Homo sapiens: one gene and its partners. The protein of the gene in region 2 interacts with the protein of the main gene of each other region in a pairwise test. Each region holds a gene or a part of one and is shown on either strand. Other genes may lie near its edges.

Evidence for each region. The genes of interacting proteins can lie anywhere in the genome.
Region 1: the proteins of GRB7 (region 2) and TRIM43 interact in binary tests that used the Homo sapiens proteins (3 or more experiments, as listed by UniProt).
Region 3: the proteins of GRB7 (region 2) and LAX1 interact in binary tests that used the Homo sapiens proteins (3 or more experiments, as listed by UniProt).

Annotation. Positions count from the first base shown.
Region 1 is NC_000002.12:95,587,133-95,595,024, reverse strand, and holds the start of TRIM43 (tripartite motif-containing protein 43), read right to left. Parts: upstream 3,025-7,892; 5' UTR 2,876-3,024; intron 1,006-2,875; 5' UTR 1,002-1,005; coding exon 591-1,001; intron 1-590.
Region 2 is NC_000017.11:39,740,917-39,747,792, forward strand, and holds the end of GRB7 (growth factor receptor-bound protein 7), read left to right. Parts: intron 1-1,335; coding exon of another isoform or gene 1,336-1,385; coding exon 1,386-1,540; intron 1,541-1,649; coding exon 1,650-1,800; intron 1,801-1,981; coding exon 1,982-2,138; intron 2,139-2,263; coding exon 2,264-2,385; intron 2,386-2,476; coding exon 2,477-2,554; intron 2,555-3,153; coding exon 3,154-3,291; intron 3,292-3,636; coding exon 3,637-3,747; intron 3,748-3,969; coding exon 3,970-4,068; intron 4,069-4,185; coding exon of another isoform or gene 4,186-4,326; coding exon 4,327-4,407; intron 4,408-4,505; coding exon 4,506-4,622; intron 4,623-4,811; coding exon 4,812-4,872; intron 4,873-4,996; coding exon 4,997-5,084; intron 5,085-5,192; coding exon 5,193-5,286; intron 5,287-5,834; coding exon 5,835-5,981; 3' UTR 5,982-6,369; downstream 6,370-6,876. UniProt on the Homo sapiens protein: Adapter protein that interacts with the cytoplasmic domain of numerous receptor kinases and modulates down-stream signaling. Promotes activation of down-stream protein kinases, including STAT3, AKT1, MAPK1 and/or MAPK3. Promotes activation of HRAS.
Region 3 is NC_000001.11:203,761,139-203,768,206, forward strand, and holds the start of LAX1 (lymphocyte transmembrane adapter 1), read left to right. Parts: upstream 1-4,044; 5' UTR 4,045-4,204; coding exon of another isoform or gene 4,205-4,245; 5' UTR 4,246-4,427; coding exon 4,428-4,516; intron 4,517-7,068. UniProt on the Homo sapiens protein: Negatively regulates TCR (T-cell antigen receptor)-mediated signaling in T-cells and BCR (B-cell antigen receptor)-mediated signaling in B-cells.

The sequences.
Region 1 (7,892 bases), on a different chromosome or scaffold from region 2:
AACAGAAAGTCAAATGCCAAAGATTCCACAATCTGAGTGGTATACACAGGCAAGGGATAATATATAAATACATTAGTGAGAGGAGAAAAAAACAAAATTTTTCATTGCTCATCCTTAATTGATATTTTTCAGTTTGAGGTTTCAGAATGTAGAACAGCTTAGGGAACTGAAGAGTGAAGATTTCCTGTAACCCAGCTAAATTAGTTCAGGGAAACATCCTGCTTCAGAACCCACTATGCTAGCCCCTGATTTTGTAGTGTGCTACTCCCATACTCATTTGTCCAGTAATATTAAATATATTTCCAAAATACCTTTCTTTGCACTGGTAGTTTTGGTAGCTTTTCAATGTCATTAGCATTGAACTGTAGAGTCAATAATAATGACATTTACTTAATCAGTCTCTTTTTGGGTGCAAGCTCCATGAAGGAAGGTAGAGTTGCACATTTTATTCAAAATGTCATCATTGGTACCTAGAACAGCACCTGGCACTCAGTAAAGAATGGAGTAATCACCATGATTCTCATCATCCTTCTAATATCTTTAACTCTGCCACCCTCCAGCTTTCAGGTGATCACAGAGCTATCTCTTACCCGGTGTTCCTCAGCTGCCTCTTCGATGGGATGGTGTTTGTGAGCCCCGTGCTCCTGAGAGTTGGAGCACAGCAAGCAGAGGAGACTCTTGTCCATGTCACAGAACATCTTCTTTGTTTGCCTATGGGTCCCACATATTTGTTTCTCAGAGCTCAGGAATTGCCAGAGACTGGCTTTTCTGGCAATGGTCACTAAATTCTTCAGAAGAATATTGGTTTTGAAGTCCATTTTCGGTGATGGTTCCCTGCATGCAGGGCAGTTTGCAGGACTTTGGGCTTCCTCCCACGAAAGGCAGAGACAGGGCCTACAGAAGCTGTGCCCACAGCAGATGGTGACAGGGTCTACCAGGTAGTTCAAACAGATGACGCAGGTGAGTTCCTTCTGGAAGGCATGTGAGAAGTCTGAGTCCATTTTCCTAAGGAAAGAAAACCACAGGAATTTAATCTTCTACCCTGGAGAGACAAAGATCCAAGCAAAGTTTGAATCAGATCGTGATCGAATAATATCCTTTCTTTCTAAAGAAGTATAGGCTTTAATCTGCAATGACAGAAATAGGAAAAACAGAAAACTAAGGCACAAAGAGACATCAACCTCTATAAAAAGTGACTGTTCTCCAATCAACACATGACCAGCTTTCCAAACTCTACTTTCTTGCATGGAAGAATGTCGGATTTTTTGAGGTGTTAGTATCCACCAAATTGCTTGGGCTTCAAGGGTTTCATCAACCTGTAAACTCAAGGTTTGAGTCTTGAATGGTCTGAAAATCAGTAACACTCTTAATTGCCAGTGATTGGTTTAAAGAAGGAAAGCTAACTAAGCTCTTCTACTCTCATTATTTTATTTAACTATAACAACCATCCATAATGACTTTTCCAGAAGGACATTGCTTGAAAATGTTAGAGCAGAACTCATACTTTGACCCAAATCAGAAAAAGCTAGCCTTTACTCTCCAAGGAAAAACAGTCAAATCAAGGTAAGGCACCTCTCCAAGGTAAAGCTAAGAATCATTGTTTTTCTAGGCTACTATGTTAATTTAATCAACAAAAACTTTCTGGCATGTTTACTGTTCCTGGACAGTCTGTTAATTTGGGGATATACTAGTTAATATTACAACATCCTTAAAAGACAATTAATTCAATTTACAAAAAGATAATGATAATTGAAGCATTATCATTACTCTTTCACACAGTCAGGAAAAGAGTAAGTATCATGCAATAACAGGCACTAGAGGCCGGGCACGGTGGCTCACGCCTGTAATCCGAGCACTTTGGGAGGCCGAGGTGGCTGAGGCAGGCAGATCACGATGTCACGAGCTCAAGACCATCCTGGCTAACATGGTGAATCCCTAACTCTACTAAAAAATACAAAAAATTAGCCGGGAGTGGTGGAGGACGCCTGTAGTCCCAGCTACTCTGGAGGCGGAGGCTGGAGAATGGCGTGAACCCGGCAGGCGGAGCTTGCAGTGAGCCGAGATAGTGCCACAGCACTCCAGTCTGGGTAACAGAGCAAGACTCTGTCTCCCCTCTAAAAAAAAAAAACAAAAACTAGGCACTAGACAGTAAGTCAGCGTTTTAAATGTATGTTTTGCTAAAATACAAATAAAAATAAAAACCAAGCCAGGGAAGGTGACTCAAGCCTGTAATCCCAGCATTTTGGGAGGCCGTCAGGCAGGTTTTTTGAGCTCAGGAACTCTAGACTGGTGACACGGCAAAGTGTCTAGATCATCCTGTCTCTAAAAATACTTATATAAATTTAAAAAAAAAAGGCCGGGCGCGGTGGCTCAGGCCTGTAATCCCAACACTTTCAGAGGCGGAGGTGAACGGATCACAAGATCAAGAGATGGAGACCATCCTGGCCAACATAGTGAAATCCCGTCTCTACTAAAAAAAAATACAAAAATTAGCTGGGCGTGGTGGCAGGCGGCTATATTTCCAGCTACTCTGGAGGCCGAGGCTGAAGAATCGTTTGAACCTGGAAGGCGGAGGTTGCAGTGAGCCAAGAGCGCCGCTGCACTCCAGCCTGGCAATAGAGCGTGATTCCATCTCAAAATAAATAAATAAACAAATAAATAAATAGCTGAACATGGTGGCCCATGTTTAATCCATAAACCTATGGATTATGTTTAAAATAATTTTAAAAAAGAAATGGAGCCGTTTTTAAAACTCAGAAAATGAGATCATTTCATCTAAAAATAATCTAAGTTTGCAGATAAATTAAAGTCCCCAAATTTTGTTTTGGTTTGTAGCTCCTAATAGTAGCTCCTACTCTGGAAATTGTGTACTTACCTCAGAAATATATCTATGTTCTCACCAAAGCTTGCCGTCGAATCAGATGAATTCAGCTCAGGGATGAGAGTCTCACAGTGCAGTGCTGGTAGCTTTCGGAAGTCCCCAAAGCCAGTTGCAAAGCTACTCTGTGGGCTCTGGAGAAGAATGAGCTTGGCTCCTGAAGTGTCGGTTTATAAATCTCTGAAGACCACACCCCTTTCTTCCAATTGATTGCATTTCACAGGGCGTAGGTGGGTGTTAACATAGATGATTAAGTTTCTTCAGAACAGAAGTTTTATCTTTATTTATTTATTTTTTTTGAAAGGAGTCTGGCTCTGTCGCTGGCTAGTTTTTTTCTTGCATTTTTAGTAGAGAGGGGGTTTGATATAATTGATATAATAGGAATTGCAAATAGAGAAGCCCACACAAGCTAACCAAATTAATTCTAGTTTATTGGATAAATGGTATGATATGTATTCTAGTTCAAATTTGAAGGTTGGTATAAACCTTTTCAGACACTGGAGATGAGACATTTCACCAAGATTGGGTGTAAGGAAGAGGAAAGAAATAGAATAGTATATAAAATAGTATATAGAGTAAAAATACAGTAAAAGGAAAAATCAATCTGCATAATATGGTGTATGGCTAAATGTTTTTTAATATTTAGGCGAATCAGACATGGAAAAATCCTAAAAGGGAGATTAATAGAGGAGATAGTTGACTCAGTAAGAACTGTGAAGAAGCATCTCAGGAAGAGAAACTAGAAGTCTTTATATAGGTTTTGATTTAAAGAGGGAGAGAGAATAGGAACATTGAAAAAGAAGGACAGAAAGAAATAACAAATATTCAAGACTCCTTGCAAGAGTGAGGCAGAAAGTTTATAGATTGCTTGATTACACCCAGCATATAATTATTTGAAGTTTTCTGTTGAGAGTGAGAGTATGTAATCCTTTTAACCAAATGTCTCCGCAGAACTATGTGTCATTAAGTAAGGTGATAATCAATATTCAATATCAAAAGATGCATCTATTTCTCGATGAGGAGAAGCAACTTCATCTGCAGGCACTGGACAGCGAAGCCAAATAGCTTTTCCAACAACTACAAGACAGTCAAGTGAGAATGACCCAACATTTAGAAAGGATGAAAGACATGTACAGAGAGCTGTGGGAGACGTGCCTCATGCCTGACGTGGAGCTGCTCCAGGTGAGGAGGGAGGGTCCATCCCCAAAGAAAGGAAGACTTTGCTGGACAATGCTGCCAGGACATGCGAATGTCACCTGCATATGTCACTGCTCTCAGCTTAGTGACACATGCTGTCTGACTCCCACATTACATTTGTCCAGTTTTTCAGAAAAAAGCTACAAAAGAAGCTTATTAGAGGGGAATATTCCCTGTGGTCAGTGTTTGATAAAGGGGAATATAAAATTACATCCACTCAAAGATTCCAAAAAAGCTTGCTTGTTCATGGTTAGGATAAGAATTACATTTCACCTATGTTATTTCTATTTGGAAAAGTTCCTCCCTCTTAGAAGCAGGAGATACATATATGATATATATGGTACATATATGTATGTATACACACATATACATATATATATACCCCCCACACACACACATATCTATGGTGTTGAATAAATAATATCACCTAAGCCAGGGGTGTGCAATCTTTTGGCTTCCCTGGGCCTCATTAGAAATAGAATTGTCTTGGGCCACACATGAAATACACTAAGATTAACTATAGCTGATGAGCTTTAATAAAATGACAAACAAAAATCTCTTCATGTTTCAAGAAAGGTTAGGAATTTGTGTTGGGCCACATTCAAAGCCGTCCTTGGCCGCACGGACCGTGGGTTGGGCAAGCTTGTTGTAAGGTATGAACTTCAAATACTACAAAATTTTTTTAGGCATATTATTGGTTCTTTCCTGGAGCAGCTCCATATCTAGTTTATGGCACATTTTTATCAGCTCCTTATAGATTTTTCTTAGGTGTTTTTTTTTTCTGAACCATTTTGTCTTTTTGCTTTTCTTAAGTTGCTGTAAAATCTTTCTGTCATCATGGTTGTAAGTTTCTCTAAGTGTTGTTTTACTTCTCATGGGGAACTGAATGCAGCTTCCTCTACTCAGCTGTAGTCATCTCTGCCCATAGCTACACATAGCACTGCAGGGACCTAGATTTCCTAGATGACATATTTACTCTGAATTCATCCTCCTCCACTTATACCTCTTCTATTCACTTTGACTCATTTCCTTTTCTTTATCTCTTTCATCTTTTCTGTATAATAAAGATCAGGGTCTCACTATGTTGATGGCCAGGCTGGTTTGAAACTCCTGGTCTCAAGTGGTCTTCCCAAAGTATTGGGATTACAGACATGAACCACTGAGCCTAGCCTGACTCATGTATTCTACCAATAAGCTAAGTACATAAACTCGTGTCTTCCCACTTGACAGAACCATGAAATAGATCATTCCTGTCTTCCTTTCATTTATTTGTATTGTTTCTTAATAATACTGAAAGCCAAATTCATTCGTTCCTCAAACCACTTTCATTCATTATATGACTTCCTAAAACACCTGAAGAAAGGTTATTATTGATCGTTTCTTCAATATATATCCATTGATATCTGAAAGCCTACATGAGAGCCATTGGAATTTATGGTTGATTCACAAATAATTTTTTGCAGTGTTATGATCTCTGTGTTTTTAAATTAGTTTTTAGTACCAGGTCTTCCTACTCCATAGCTTGACCACTCTCCCTGAGCATTAATCAATGCTGCATTGTACCCTCAGGATTGGAAGCCATGAGAAAAATCTTCCTCAAATCTACCAAGATGATTTCCATTCAAGTGATAAGTGGATACATTTCTAGCATGTCTGTCTGAGGCTAACTCTGAGGGAAAAGGCCTAATACTTGCAATCCACTGGTTGGTTTTCCTGCTTTCCTCATTTAAATTTCTTTGGTTTTCTTGAATTTTTGCCCACAAACATCTCATTTGCTTCATAATCTTCTCCTGTAAAAGAACTATGAATGTGAACATCAGAGAAGCAAATCATTTTAGGTTTCAGACCCCCAGTGATAAAGAAATCAAGGGATGAGATATGAAAGAGATTTGGGAAGATCTCGGACTGTAGAACCACAACGTGTAACGCAGCAAGTTTAATAGGAAAATCATAGGCAGGGCTAATTTACAGATAATGTGGCACCTTGCATCAGAATTGGAATCTACTGACACCGTGCCCTGCTAATTCTAACGTGTTTTATTCTATTATTTCCAGTGTTGGTAAATAGGTTTCTTATAGAAAAGACTTTTTAACTTGTAGTTTGGATAGCCAGAAACTCTTCTGATATTGAGCTCTTTACAGTGCCTTGAACACTGCATCAAGTAGTCAAATTATTACAATGATTATTAACTTCATCACTCCCTCAGTGAAATGTAAGCTCCAGGAAGGAAAGCACACTCAGATTATATTTATTATTTTATCATTGATACCTAGGCACTACACGACATCCAGTACAGAGCAGATTAATCATCATGCTCTTCATCTTCCCCTAATCTCTTTACCTGTGCCATCCTCCAGCTTTCAAAGTGCTCTCAGAGCCATCACTTACCCAGTGTTCCTTAGCTGCCCCTCACAGTGTGTGTGAACCCCATGCTCCTGAGAGTTCCAGCACAGCAAATGAATCAGGCTCTTTTTCCACCTCTCCAAATATCTTCTTTGTCTCCCTGTGGATCCCACGCATTTGTTCATTAGGGCTCAGGAATTGCCAGAGACTGGCTTTTCTGGCAACGGACACTAGATTCTTCAGAAGAATATTGGTTTTGAAGTCCTCCTGCTGTGACAGTTCCCAGCATGTGGGCAGCAGGTAGGAATTTTGGTTTCTTCCTAGGAAAGGCAGAGACAGGGCCTACAGAAGCTGGGGCTGCAGCCTGTGGCAATGGGGTCTACACATTAGTTCAGACAGAAGAGGCAGATGGATTCTTTCTTTCTGGAAGGCTTGTGTGATGTCTGAGACCAATTTCCTGAAGGAAGGAAATTAGGAAAGGTATGATTCAAACTTCTTCATCTTATGCCCTGAGAAACAAAGACCAAAGCAAAATTTGACTCAGGTTGTGACTCAATGATACACTTCTGTCTAGAGTAGAATAGGCTTTATTTTGCATAAGACAAAAATAGAACCTGAGGCACAAAGAGAGCTCTCAGATCTGTAGGTAAAATTGTCAGATGCATGCATAACTCACAGGGCACTACATCCTACCCTTTTCTTTTGTATAGAAAAATGAACCTCAGAGAGGCCAGAAATGGTGGCTCACACCTATAATCCCAGCACTTTGGGATGCCAAGGCTGGTAGATCAGGTTGGAGACCAGCCCGGCCAATATGGGGAAACCCCATCTCTACTAAAAATACAAAAACCAGCCATGAGTAGTGGCACACGCCTGTAATCCCAGTCACTCAGGGGACTGGGCAGAAGAATCGCTTGAACCCTGAGGTTGCAGTCAACTGAGATTGAGCCACTGCTCTTCAGCCTGGGCAATAAAACAATACCTGTCACAAAAAGAAAGAAAAAGAAGGAAGGAAGGAAGGAGAAAAGAAAAGAAAGAAAAGGAGAAAAGAAACCTCCATTTTGTTGAGTTTTGACTTTACTCCAAAAAGCTTGAGGTTTAAGAGTATGAAATTGGGACCAATTTACACCATAGATGATGGGTCCTGAATATTCTGAAAACCATTCTTAATGCTCATTGTGATTGGTTTAGGAAAGATCGATTTAGTACAAAAGAAAAAAGTGATTGGTTTAGGAAACTGTATTTCACTGAGATTTTACTCTCATTATTTCATTTTGATGTCATAATTTTCTCCTTTAAAGTATTTCGAAAATCCTCAATCACAAGCCACCACTGCAAAATAATTTCTAAATAAATAAGCAATATTTATTTACTGAACATTTGGTGAAATTTCATCAGATCAGATTTCACCCAAAATTTGATCAGATTTCACCCAAAAATGCTAAAGAGGCATTTAGTATATTCTAAAACACA
Region 2 (6,876 bases):
GTGGCCTCATAGTACTGGCCCAGTGTTTGGAGAACAGGCTGGGGGCTGGGATTGCAGGTTCTCCCAGGTCTCAGCCCGGCCAAAGGGGTCTGCTGGGTTCCTGCGGAGAAGGTGCCAGCCCCACCTCCACCTCTAGTGCTCGTCTTTGCCTGCTGTCCTGTCTTTACTTGTCTTGAGTGTCTGTGCAGCCCCTATAAGTGATAAGACATGGGTGAGATTGGCCTTGCCTGGGGGTACCAGGTGCCCTCAGACAAATGGGTGGATAGGACAGGTGCACAGTAATGGATGATGCGGCCCCCGCACAGTGCTGAGAGAGAGTCATTCAGTCTGAATGTGGAAGGCCAGGAAGGCTTCTCAGAGGAGGTGGCTCTAGCACTGGGGCTTCAGGAAAGAGTTGGGCAGGAGGATGGCCTGGGGAGGGTACGCAAGGTTTGGGGGCTGCTGGGGCCAGGACCCCTACCCCAGGCCCTGCTCTCCCCCTTGCACTGCAGCGGAGCCCGCTCTCCTGCCTTTCTGACTCCCATCCTTCCCCACCTCCTTCTCCCCTCTGCATCACTCATCACTTGGGCAGGCCAAACCTCGCCAAGTATGAACAGGCTCTGGCAACTGGGTCTGGCAACAAAGTGCTGGAAAAACCCGGGGCACAGCCCAGCGCAGTGAGTGCCCCACACGTGGAGGCAAAGGAGTGGGCCTTTGCCCTGACCCTGAGGGCTGAGCCTGAGAGTCTGTGGGTTGTGAAATCTGTTGTGACCACCAGGCTTGTGGTGGGTGGACCCTCAGCTCTTCCTGTGAGCAACTTTGTGCTAAAGAAAGAGCACTGGAGCCGGGCGTGGTGGCTTACGCCTGTAATCCCAGCACTTTGGGAGGCCAAGGCGGGCGGATCAGGAGTTCAAGACCAGCCTGGCCAACATGGTGAAACCCTGTCTCTACTAAAAATACAAAAATTAGACGGGCGTGGTGGTGGGCACCTGTAATCCCAGTTACTCGGGAGGTTAAGGCACGAGAATTACTTGAACCCAGGAGGTGGAGGTTGCAGTGAGTGGAGATGACGCCGCTGCAAAAAAAAAAAAAAAAAAGGAGAAAAAAAACAGAAAGAGCACTGGACTTGGAGTCTAAACACAGGTTCTACTCCCGACTCACCTGTGACTGAGGGCAAGAATGCTTTCTTCTCAGAGACTCGGTGTCCCCTTTTGTAAAATGAGGCTCATTCTGTCCTTCCCCAAGGGCTTCAGGGAAACTCCAGTTAGAGCAGTGAGGTGCTAGGTAAACTCTGAGGGGCACCCTAACCGCCGTGTGAGGTCAGGAGGTCTGAATTCTCTCATCCCCTCTCCCCAGGACAAGGGCACACAACTGGTTCCGTTAAGCCCCTCTCTTGCTCAGACGCCATGGAGCTGGATCTGTCTCCACCTCATCTTAGCAGCTCTCCGGAAGACCTTTGCCCAGCCCCTGGGACCCCTCCTGGGACTCCCCGGCCCCCTGATACCCCTCTGCCTGAGGAGGTAAAGAGGTCCCAGCCTCTCCTCATCCCAACCACCGGCAGGTACGATGGGGCGTGGGGCTTGGGGGAGGTCAGTGCTGGATAATACACAGAGGCTTGCAGGCCACTGCTCCCTTCCCCACACCTCTCTCCCTTTTTCTTCTTGCCACAGGAAACTTCGAGAGGAGGAGAGGCGTGCCACCTCCCTCCCCTCTATCCCCAACCCCTTCCCTGAGCTCTGCAGTCCTCCCTCACAGAGCCCAATTCTCGGGGGCCCCTCCAGTGCAAGGGGGCTGCTCCCCCGCGATGCCAGCCGCCCCCATGTGAGTTGTCCCTCAGAAGGGAAGGGAGGGATGCACGGGTTCTGGGTCTGTGGGAGATACACAGCCGCTTCCATGGAGGCAGGGGATCTTGGTTAGGAGTCCCTGAGGGTCTAGCAGGTGCGGAAAGGGAATGAATCACCCTTTGCCTCCCCTCAAGTCGTGTGCAATTCCTGGGGCGCAGGTAGTAAAGGTGTACAGTGAGGATGGGGCCTGCAGGTCTGTGGAGGTGGCAGCAGGTGCCACAGCTCGCCACGTGTGTGAAATGCTGGTGCAGCGAGCTCACGCCTTGAGCGACGAGACCTGGGGGCTGGTGGAGTGCCACCCCCACCTAGCACTGGGTAAGTCAGGTGCATGGAACTATCCGGGCTGGGAGATGATGCCTTGCATCTTGGGCTAGGCATGTGGCTCATCCAGGAGATCTGGTTGATCTCCAATAACCCCTGCTTTTTGCCCTTGTCCCCAGAGCGGGGTTTGGAGGACCACGAGTCCGTGGTGGAAGTGCAGGCTGCCTGGCCCGTGGGCGGAGATAGCCGCTTCGTCTTCCGGAAAAACTTCGCCAAGTACGAACTGTTCAAGAGCTCCCCAGTGAGTGCATGAGGGCTGTCTGGGCGCTGGGATGCCCTGATCCTCAACCTGGATGCTGGAGCCCTGATCCCTGACACTTGTCTACCCACAGCACTCCCTGTTCCCAGAAAAAATGGTCTCCAGCTGTCTCGATGCACACACTGGTATATCCCATGAAGACCTCATCCAGGTGGGGGGACCCCCCATTTCACTGCAGATTCACGACTCCCCAGCATTGGCCAGTGCTTCTCCACCCTTAAGTCCTGTGCCTCCCCTCTATGTTGTAGAAAGAGCCAAATCACAGTCCTGTGTGACTGGGGACAGTCACTTTCCCTGCCTGAGCATCAGTTTCTTCTATTAAATGGGGGCGAGAAATGCATGTGGAGCATTTCCTTGTAAAAACCTGAGGGTGGGCTGGGCACGGTGGCTCATGCCTATAATCCCAGCACTTTGGGAGGCTGAGGCGGGAGGATTACTTAAGCCTAGAAGTTTGAGAGTTTGAGACCAGCCTGGGCAACATAATGAGACCTCGTCTCTCCAAAAAAAAAAAAAAAAAAAAAAAAAAGGCCAGGAATGGTGGCATGAGCCTGTAGTCCCAGGTGCTTGGGAGGCTGAGGTGGGAGGATCACTTGAGCTCGGGAGGTCGAGGTTGCAGTGAGCTGTGATCGTGCCACCGCACTAGCATGAGACCCTGTCTCAAAAAGAAAAAGAAAAAGAGAAACATCCTGGTGGTAGAGGGGAAGGGAGGAGGTCAGACCTGTCACTCTCCTCTGCTCTCCTCTGGCTCAGAACTTCCTGAATGCTGGCAGCTTTCCTGAGATCCAGGGCTTTCTGCAGCTGCGGGGTTCAGGACGGAAGCTTTGGAAACGCTTTTTCTGCTTCTTGCGCCGATCTGGCCTCTATTACTCCACCAAGGGCACCTCTAAGGTAAGGTCTTGAGGGTACCAGCCCCAGCCCCTCCAGTCCCTGGTCCTTTTAGAAGTTGCCCCTTCTCTGCTGGAACCTCTGAGCCCTTCTCCCCCTGGGCCCCCCAGGCCAGCCACCTCCAGTTTACCATCTCTCCCTACATCCTTGCCTAGCTCACCTGCCCAGGGAGGTAGCAGGAGAAAAGATGATCTTAGTTTAAGTCCTGGCTCTACTTCTATTTGCTGTGTGACCCTGGGTATTCCCCTGCCCCTCTCTGGTCCTGAAATCTCCCCACCTGGCTTGTGGGGGGAGGTAATAGTGGGCGGGATCTACCTGTACCAAGTCCTGCTCACTCATGCTGCTTAGGATCCGAGGCACCTGCAGTACGTGGCAGATGTGAACGAGTCCAACGTGTACGTGGTGACGCAGGGCCGCAAGCTCTACGGGATGCCCACTGACTTCGGTTTCTGTGTCAAGGTGAAGACCTGGCCAGGCCTGGCCCCTGGCCTGGGGAAGCAGGAACTGCTCAGGCCCCTGGATCCTGCCCGGGGCTTCTGAGCCCCAATTCAGACACCTAGACTCCTCTCCCTGCACCCTGGCCTGCTGGAAACTCCTGGATTCAGCTCTGCTATGTGGAGCAGGGGCAGACATGTGGTCCTAAAGGCAGATATGGGACCAGTCAATTTCCTCTCTCTGCAGCCCAACAAGCTTCGAAATGGCCACAAGGGGCTTCGGATCTTCTGCAGTGAAGATGAGCAGAGCCGCACCTGCTGGCTGGCTGCCTTCCGCCTCTTCAAGGTGAGACCCTGGGAGTGGCATGGGGGGCTGGCCTGGCCAGAGGGATCCCCAGCTCTGCCCTCAGGAAGTCTCAGGAATGAGGAGGGCATCACAGCCTTGCTCTCTGATAACCCCCAGTCCAAGCCTGAAGTTATAGGAAGTGCCCATCGAAGGCAGAAACACAGCCCTGGTCTGGGCAAGTCCTGGTCTGAGGGGGGCGTCACAGCCACGCCCCCAGGACCTCTCGACCTCAAGCTCTCTTTCTCTCCCCACCCCCAGTACGGGGTGCAGCTGTACAAGAATTACCAGCAGGCACAGTCTCGCCATCTGCATCCATCTTGTTTGGGCTCCCCACCCTTGGTGAGTGTGCCCAAGGGGATGGGAGGGTGGGTATGCAGGCCCTGTCTTACGGGTACCTGGGCCCTGTTCTGACCTCTCTCCTCTCCTTCCATCTCCAGAGAAGTGCCTCAGATAATACCCTGGTGGCCATGGACTTCTCTGGCCATGCTGGGCGTGTCATTGAGAACCCCCGGGAGGCTCTGAGTGTGGCCCTGGAGGAGGCCCAGGCCTGGAGGGTGAGGCCTGCTGTGTGTGTGTGTGTTTGTGCTGGGGACCCACTCTCTGGGTGGGATCCCTGAAATAGGAGGGAGGAAGAGAGGGCGGGGGGAGGCCCCTGGCTGGGAAGAAGTGCTCTACCTTCCTGAGGTGCTGGGTAATGCCCCCAAGCACGCCCCGACTCTCCCGTATCTCCCACTGCTCCACAGAAGAAGACAAACCACCGCCTCAGCCTGCCCATGCCAGCCTCCGGCACGAGCCTCAGTGCAGGTGGGTGACGGCCCCGAGTCCTGGGGCGGGGGCTGCCTCAACTTCTCTTTGTATTCCCAGTGGGGAGTAGATGGTATAGGGGTCCCCTCCCCAAAGTGACCGCCCATGTCCTTCCCCACCACAGCCATCCACCGCACCCAACTCTGGTTCCACGGGCGCATTTCCCGTGAGGAGAGCCAGCGGCTTATTGGACAGCAGGGCTTGGTAGACGGGTAAGGGGCAGGGCCGGGCAACAGACCCAGGGATAAGAGAGACTGGGGTCCAGGTGGCAGCCATGGTCCTTGGGTAGTAATGCTGCCCCATCTCCTGTCTTCTGGCAGCCTGTTCCTGGTCCGGGAGAGTCAGCGGAACCCCCAGGGCTTTGTCCTCTCTTTGTGCCACCTGCAGAAAGTGAAGCATTATCTCATCCTGCCGGTGAGCTTCCCTGCGTCCCCGGAGTCCTGCAATGAGACACAGGACTCCCAGCAACCTGTCCTCCTCACCAGGCCCCTCCAGAGGCTCCCTGGCCCCCAGTGCGTCTCCCTTTTCCCTGCACAAGAAGTGGGAGGCTGAGTGCGGTGGCTCACACCTGTAATCCCAGCACTTAGGACGGCCAAGGTGGGAGAATGGCTTGAGCCCAGGAGTTCGAGACCAGCCTGGGCAACACAGGGAGACCCCATCTCTACAAATAATTTAAAAATGAGCCAGGCATGGTGGTGCACACCTGTAGTCCAGCTACTCAGGAGGCTGAGGTGGGAGCATTGCTTGAGCCCAGAGGGTCAAGGCTGCAGTGAGCCATGGTGGCACCACCACACTCCAGCCTGGATGACACAGTGAGAAAACTGTCTCAAAAAAAAAAAAAGAAAGAAAAAGAAAAAGAAAAAAGAAAAGAATAAAAGGAAATGGTGGGGCCCTGGCCCAGGAGGGAGCTTCCCAAGCCTCGGGCCCCTCCCTGAACTTCCACCCCCTTTACTGTACCCCAGAGCGAGGAGGAGGGCCGCCTGTACTTCAGCATGGATGATGGCCAGACCCGCTTCACTGACCTGCTGCAGCTCGTGGAGTTCCACCAGCTGAACCGCGGCATCCTGCCGTGCTTGCTGCGCCATTGCTGCACGCGGGTGGCCCTCTGACCAGGCCGTGGACTGGCTCATGCCTCAGCCCGCCTTCAGGCTGCCCGCCGCCCCTCCACCCATCCAGTGGACTCTGGGGCGCGGCCACAGGGGACGGGATGAGGAGCGGGAGGGTTCCGCCACTCCAGTTTTCTCCTCTGCTTCTTTGCCTCCCTCAGATAGAAAACAGCCCCCACTCCAGTCCACTCCTGACCCCTCTCCTCAAGGGAAGGCCTTGGGTGGCCCCCTCTCCTTCTCCTAGCTCTGGAGGTGCTGCTCTAGGGCAGGGAATTATGGGAGAAGTGGGGGCAGCCCAGGCGGTTTCACGCCCCACACTTTGTACAGACCGAGAGGCCAGTTGATCTGCTCTGTTTTATACTAGTGACAATAAAGATTATTTTTTGATACACCTATGAGTTCTGTCTGGCAAGGCCTGGCTGGCTGAATCAAGAAGGGAACCAGAGCTGGACGTGGTGGCTCATGCCTGTAATCCCAGCACTTTGGGAGGCCAAGGTAGGAGAATTGCTTGAGTCCAGGAGTTTGAGACCAGCCTGGGCAACATGGCAAGACCCTGTCCCTACAAAAAATAAAAAAATGAGCCGGGCATGGTGGTGTGCACCTGTAGTCCCAGCTTCTCAGGAGGCTGAGGTGGGAGGATCCCTTGTTCCTTGAGCCTGGGATGTCAAGGTTGCAGTGAACTGAGATTGTGCCGCTGCACTCAGCCTGAGTGACAGAGTGAGACCCTGTCTGGAAAAAAAAAGAGGGGAGACCTGGAGAGGTGGGCACCTGTGGAGGCCTTGGTGGAAGTGTCAAATGGATCGAGGCCATGTCTCAGCCTGCCTGGATGTTCCTCAAGGGCAGGAGTGGTTATCTGAGAGTCTCCAGTGCCCACCATGCAGCTTGACACATAGTAGGC
Region 3 (7,068 bases), on a different chromosome or scaffold from region 2:
CCTGAGTGACAGAGCAAGACTCCGTCTCAAAAAAAAAAAAAACAAAAAAACACAAAAATAACAGTCTAGGCCAGGTGTGGTGGCTCATGCCTGTAATCCCAGCAAGTTGGGAGGCTGAGGCAGGCAGATCACAAGGTCAGGGGTTCGAGACCAGCCTGGCCAACATGGCAAAACCCCATCTCTACTAAAAACACATAAATTAGCTGGGCGTGGTGGCGAGCGCTTGTAATCCTAGCTACTCAGGAGGCTGAGGCAGGATAATCACTTGAACCCGGGAGGCAGAGGTTGCAGTGAGCCGAGATCATGCCATTGCACTCAAGCCTGAGCGACGAGCAAGACTCCATCTCAAAAAATAAATAAATAGGCTGGACCTGGTAGCTCACACCTGTAATCCCAACACTTTGGGAGGCCAAAGCAGGTGGATCACAAGGTCAGGAGTTGGAGACCAGCCTGGCCAATATGGTAAAACCCCGTCTTTTCTAAAAAAAAAAAAAAATACAAAAATTAGCCGAGCATGGTGGCGCACACCTGTAGTCCCAGCTACTCGGGAGGCTGAGGCAGAAGAATCGCTTGAACCCAGGAGGCAGAGGTTACAGTGAGCTGAGATCATGCCACTGCACTCCAGCCTGGGCGAAAGAGCGAGACACCTTCTCAAAAATAAATAAATAAATAAATGTTTGTTTGTTTGTTTGTTTGTTTTTGAGGGGAGTTTTGCTCGTTGCTCAGGCTAGAGTGCAATGGTGCGACCTCGGCTCACTGCAACCTCTGCCTCCCGGGTTCAAGCAATTCTGCTTCAGCCTCCTGAATAGCTGGGATTACAGTCAGGCACAACCACGCCTGGCTAATTTTTTGTATTTTTAGTAGAGATGGAGTTTCTCCATGTTAGTCAGGCTGGTCTCAAACTTCTGACCTCAAGTGATTCAGCCACCTCGGCCTTCCAACTTGCCGGGATTACAGGCGTGAGCCACTGCACCTGGCCAAAAAACAGTCTTAATACTTTAGAATCCTGTCAGAGGCGTATGAACCAGAGCAACTCCATCTCGAATAGGGGCTGGGTAAAATGAGGCTGAGACCTATTGGGCTGCATTCCCAGACAGTTAAGGCATTCTAAGTCACAGAATGAGATAGGAGGTTGGCACAAGATATAGGACATAAAGACCTTGCTGATAAAACAGGCTGTAGTAAAGAAGCCGGCTAACACCCACCAAAACCAACATGGCCATGAGAATGTCCTCTGGTCATCCTCACTGCCACACTCCCATCAGCACCATGACCGTTTACAAATGCCATGGAACAACAGGAAGTTAGTCTATATGGTCTAAAAAGGGGAGGCATGAATAATCCAGCCCGTGTTTAGCATATCATCAAGAAATAACCATAAAAATGGGCAACCAGTAGCCCTTGAGGCTGCTCTGTCCGTGAAGCAGCCATTCTTTTATTCCTTTACTTTCCTAATAAAGTTGCTTTCACTTTACTCTATGGACTCGCCCTGAATACTTCCTTGGGCAAGATCCAAGAACCCTCTCTTGGGGTCTGCATCAGGACCCCTTCCCTGTAACACCTTTCTGGCAACCACTGAAGGGACTATAGTGCAGAAACCCCCAACCCAAAGGCTAACTCTGGGTAAGTGTTGGGGTCTGGTAACAATCATATGTAACATCCGACCCCAAAAAATCATGAAAAGTGGTTAAAACACTAGAGCAGGCTGGGTGCAGTGGCTCACACCTATAATCGCAGAATTTTGGGAGGCCAGGGTGGGCAGATCACTTGAGCCCAGGAGTTTGGACCAGCCTGGCTAACATGCTGAAACCTCATTTCTACTAAAAATACAAAAATTAGCCATGTGTGGTGGCGTGTACCTGTAGTCCCAGCTACTTGGGAGACTGAGGCAGGAGAATGGCTTGAGCCTGGGAGGCATAGGTTGTAGTGAGCAAGAGCATGCCACTGCACTTCAGCCTGGGCAACAGGAGTGAAACCCTGTCTCAGAAAAAAACAACATCAACAACACGAGAGCAATCGGATTTAAAACATACACTCCTTGGCCAGGTGCGGTGGCTCATGCTGTAATCCCAGCACTTTGGGAGGCCAAGGCGGGCGGATCACCTGAGGTCAGTAGTTGGAGACCAGCCTGACCAACATGGAGAAACCCCGTCTCTACTAAAAATACAAAATTAGCTGGGTGTGGCGGTGCATGCCTGTAATGCCAGCTACTCGGGAGGCTGAGACAGGAGAATTGCTTGAACCCGGGAGGCGGAGGTTTCGGTGAGCCAAGATCATGCCATTGCACTCCAGCCTGGGCAACAAGAGCAAAACTCTATCTCAAAAAAACAACAACAACAACAAAATACACCCCATTTCCCAGGAACGAGTGTTTTTTGTTGTTGCTGTTGTTTTTTCCCCGCTATTATGATGAATCATTTCAGCTACCTACTTTTTGTTTTAGTTTGTCAGTTTGATTGGATTTTGCCCCATGGGGAAGGAAAGGAGAGCAGGATGAGGGGCACAGCCAAGGCCTGGAATCCTGGCACTCACCTGCAGTCTGAGGCAGGTAACTTGGGCAGCTGCCTCTGAGGTGGTGATTTCCCTGAGATGTGGGGGCAGGAGAGAATTGGACAACCAGAGGGAAGATTGGTCTAACTGCAGCAGATTGGGTAGATAAGATAAGTGAGGCCCTGAAATGATCACATGCAATGGAAAAGTTCTTTAAAAAAAAAAAAAATTTTTTTTTTTTAATTAGCAGTCATGGTTCTGAGGTTTGGTTCCATGTGCCCTTTCCGTGTACTGCCTTCCGAGGTCCTGATTCTCACAGTCCCTTATTGGTTCCAATGGCCCAGGACCCCAGTCCTTGCCACCAGCATGATGGATCTTGTGAGTAGTCCTAGTTCCTACTCAGACCTGATCCAAAGGAGAAGTGGGCAGAGACCCAGGTTCCAGCTCCAGCACCAGCTGCCTCTGAGCCATTTCTGCTTCCTACCAGGTGAAGCTCCTGGGAGGGAAGGGGCCCAGGACCTGGAATGATAAAGCTCCCTGGAAAGCCAGCCATGGCCAGTCTGCAGCCCCTGGGGACTCTGTGAGAGTCTGGATGCAGACAGGCCAGGGGCTGCCACCTCAGGAAAGCTGAGGACCTCAATGTCCACTGGGAAGAGATGGGAGGGAGGCATGGTTCTAGGAGGGTACTGCTGGTCTGCCCTTCCATTCATCTGGGAATCCATTTCCTTGTGGAAAGTGCAATCAGAGAGGTTCTTCACATCCTTACAACAGTCTTAGTGGCCCCTTCTCTTTGGACTCTCCCAAGATGCAAAGAGTGTTTCCGGAGATTAGTAGGCTCAAGAAGGGAGGGGAGTTAGCAATAAATTTTGAACAATCTTCAAACACTTTGGGTAGCTCTTAAGGATGAACTTGTTCAGCTTCTGAGACAGGTGTGTGACAAGTAAGACTGTGACTGATCTTCAGAAGAGCCCTGAGAACAGGAGATCACCAGCAGCCAGGAGCTGTGGAAGGTTGCCTTGGGGGAGCAGGGGTCCTGCTAACCCAGCATAACTTCTATTCTTAAGGTAGTACCCAGAGCAGAGGTTCCCAAAACATGAAACACAGATGAGCTCCATCAAAATCACCTGAAAGCTCCATCAAATTCACCTGGAAAGCATCGATAGCCAAAGCCTGCCCCCTCTGCAGCCTCCACCCACTGAATCAGAAGAGGGTCCCGGAGATCTGCATTTCACTCTAAAAGGCAACCTCCAGTGCTCCTTAGACTTGCTTAGAAAATACTGTAAATCTGAAGACTTATACAACTCTAAGTGTCTCAGAAACTCAGGGTGAAGAATCACAAGTTCTCTACTACCCTGCCCCATTTTTAATCACACTCATCACAGACCACAGAGCACCTGGCAAACCCAGGAACGGTGGGTTGAAGATATGTTTTCTTCTAGCAGATTAAGAGCTGAGCAGAGTTTCCTGTGCCCTGTGCTTCATTAGCACATTGGTGGTGTCGTTTCCGGTGACTGACTCTCTGTTTCCATTCTGGCAAAGTGGTTTGCTCTTTTCACTCTGCTTTGGGTGTTGAAGGAAGACGAGCTTCTCACGGAGCCTCTCTTGAGCCTCTTGGCAGTTTCCCCCTCTGTGCCCCTCACGTTTCCACCAGAAACGTGAAGGCAGAGGCCACAGATTCTCCCTGAGCCACCTCACTTGGAAGCACCATGTCCGGATGAGATCGCACTTCCTGCAGTGGGCATTAGCCACGTCCAGGTAGAACCAAACCTGTTGCTTTTGTATGTTGGGTCAACTTGGCCTGACGTTTCAGAGGTAGACACGAGATAGGGAGTTTGTTGCGGGGGTGGGGAGAAGTGGTAGACATGCTGGCTAACTGATTATGATTAAGAGAAACTTAGAAGCTGAAGCCAGAGAGCATCTCAAAGGTTCCTGATACAATGGATGGTGTCACTCCAACCCTTTCGACAATCAGAGGGAGGACCTTGGAGTCCAGCACTCTGCATGTGACTCCCCGCAGCCTGGACAGGTGAGTGACTCAGGGTGGTGAGCTCCACCCTGCCCTGATTTAGGCAGAAGGTCCTAGTCCACCCTTAGGAGCTTCTTACACAGCAGTGCTGCCACCTCTCAACACCCAGGCTCGGTCTACTAAACCACCAAACTCTAGGCTTGGAGGCATTTGCTCAGGGGTGCTAGGGGGAAAGGAAGGTATTGAGGAAAGAAAGAAAATATTGTGGTAGAGGAAAAACTGTGATAACACTGGCCCTTAAAGCTAGTTGCTTAGACTGGTTGGATTTCTCACCTCTCGGAGGCCCTGAACCCTATCATCAGTCTTTCCTAGGTGTCACCATGACAGAAACAAAAGGCTGAGTTTTCCAAGGATGTGTTTTGAGATCCAAAAACTTGTCATGAATAAAAAATGTAGTGATAGATGTAATAAAGATACGTCCTTAGGACGTAAAATCTTACAGAACTAATCATGGGTATGAATTACTGCTACTACTTTCAATCTCATACAAACAAAATTAAAAATCCATCCACAGTTGAAACTTTAAAAACATTGGCAGCTGACTGGGCGCGGTGGCTCACACCTGTAACCCCAGCACTTTGGGAGGCCGAGTGGGGCGGATCACCCCCACTCTTGAACCAGCCTGGCCAAGACCAGCCTGGCCAACATGGTGAAACCCCGTTTCTACTAAAAATACAAAAATTAGCCGGGAGTGGTAGCATGCTCCTGTAGTCCCAGCTACTCAGGAGGCTGAGGCAGGAGAATCACTTGAACCCGGGAAACAGAGGTTGCAGTGTCATGTCATTGTACTCCAGCCTGGGCAACAAAAGCGAAACTCTGTCTCAAAAAATAAAATAAAATTGCAGTCGTTTGGGGAAATAAATGTTATTATCATGGCAAACACATGTCACTTGCTGGTAGATATGAGCATCAATGAGCAATGAATCAGAAGCCTGAAGCATCTCTCCAAAACTATTTCTTCATTTATTTTTATTTATTTCTAATTGGCAAATCAAAATTATATATATTTATCATGATAGCCTGTTGTTTTGAAATATGTATACATTGTACAATAGCTACATTAAACTAATTAAGATACACATTACTTCACAATTTTCTTTTGTGGTGAGAATACTTAAAATTTCTCAGCAATTTTCAAGAATATGACACATTTTTATTAACTATAGTCATCAACACTTTTTTTGTTTTGTTTTGTTTGTTTTTTTTATTTTTATTTTTTTAGACAGAGTCTCGCTCTGTCGCCCAGGCTGGAGTGCAGTGGCGTGATCTCGGCTCACTGCAGCCTCCACCTCCCAGGTTCAAGCTATTCTCCTGCTTCAGCCTCCTGAGTAGCTGGGATTGCAGGCATGTGCCACCACCCGCGGCTAACTTTTTTTTGTATTTTTAGTAGAGATGGGGTTTCTTCATGTTGGTCAGGCTGGTCTCGAACTCCCTACCTTAGGTGATCCGCCCACCTCTGTCTCCCAAAGTGCTGGGATTACAGGCATGAGCCACCGGGTCTGGACCATCAACACATTTTTATTAACTATAGGCATCATGTTATACAACAGATCCCTTGAATTTTTCTTTCTCTCTAACTGATATTTTGTACCCTTTGACCAACATCTCTGCAACCCCTCCCTGGTAACCACCATTCTACTCTCCACTTCTTTTTTTTTTTTTTTTTTTTTGAGACAAAGTTTCACTCTTGTTGCCCAGGCTGGAGTGCAAGGTTGCAATCTAGGGTCACTGCAACCTCCACCTCCCAGGTTCAAGCGATTCTCCTGCCTCAGCCTCCCCAGTAAATGGGATTACAGGCATGAGCCACCATGCCTGGCTAATTTTGTATTTTTAGTAGAGTTGGGGGTTTCTCCATGTTGGTCAGGCTGGTCTCGAACTCCTTACCTCAGGTGATCCGCCCACCTCCGCCTCCCAAAGTGCTGGGATTACAGACATGAGCCACCATGCCCCGCCTTGGTAGTTCTATTTTTAATTTTTGAAGAACCTCCATAGTGTTTTCCATAATGGCTGTACTACACTTAAAACTATTTCTATATTAATTCATTTGTTTATTAATTCATTCATTTAACAAATATTTATCAGGGCCCTACTAAGTACCAAGCACTGTTTAAGGCACTAGGTGAACAGGATAAACAAGTCCATAACCTCCTGAAGATTATAGACAAGTGGGAGAGTCAAATAATGAACAGAGCTGAGCGTGGTGGCTCATGCCTATAATCCAAGCCTTTGGTAGACCAAGGCAGGAGGATCAATTGAGCCCAGGAGTTCAAAACCAGCCTGAGCAACACATGGAGACCCTGTCTCAAAATTTTTTTTTTTTAAATAAAAAAATGATAAACAGATAAGCATATGAATGTATAATATCAATCAATCGGGCTGGGTGAGGTGGCTCACGCCTGTAATCCCAGCACTTTGGGAGGCCAAGGTGGGCAGATCACCCAAAGTCAGGAGTTCGAGACCAGCCTGACGAATATGATGAAACCCCATCTCTACTAAAAATACAAAAATTAGCCAGGCGTGGTGGTGCGTACCTGTAGTCCCAGCTACTCGGG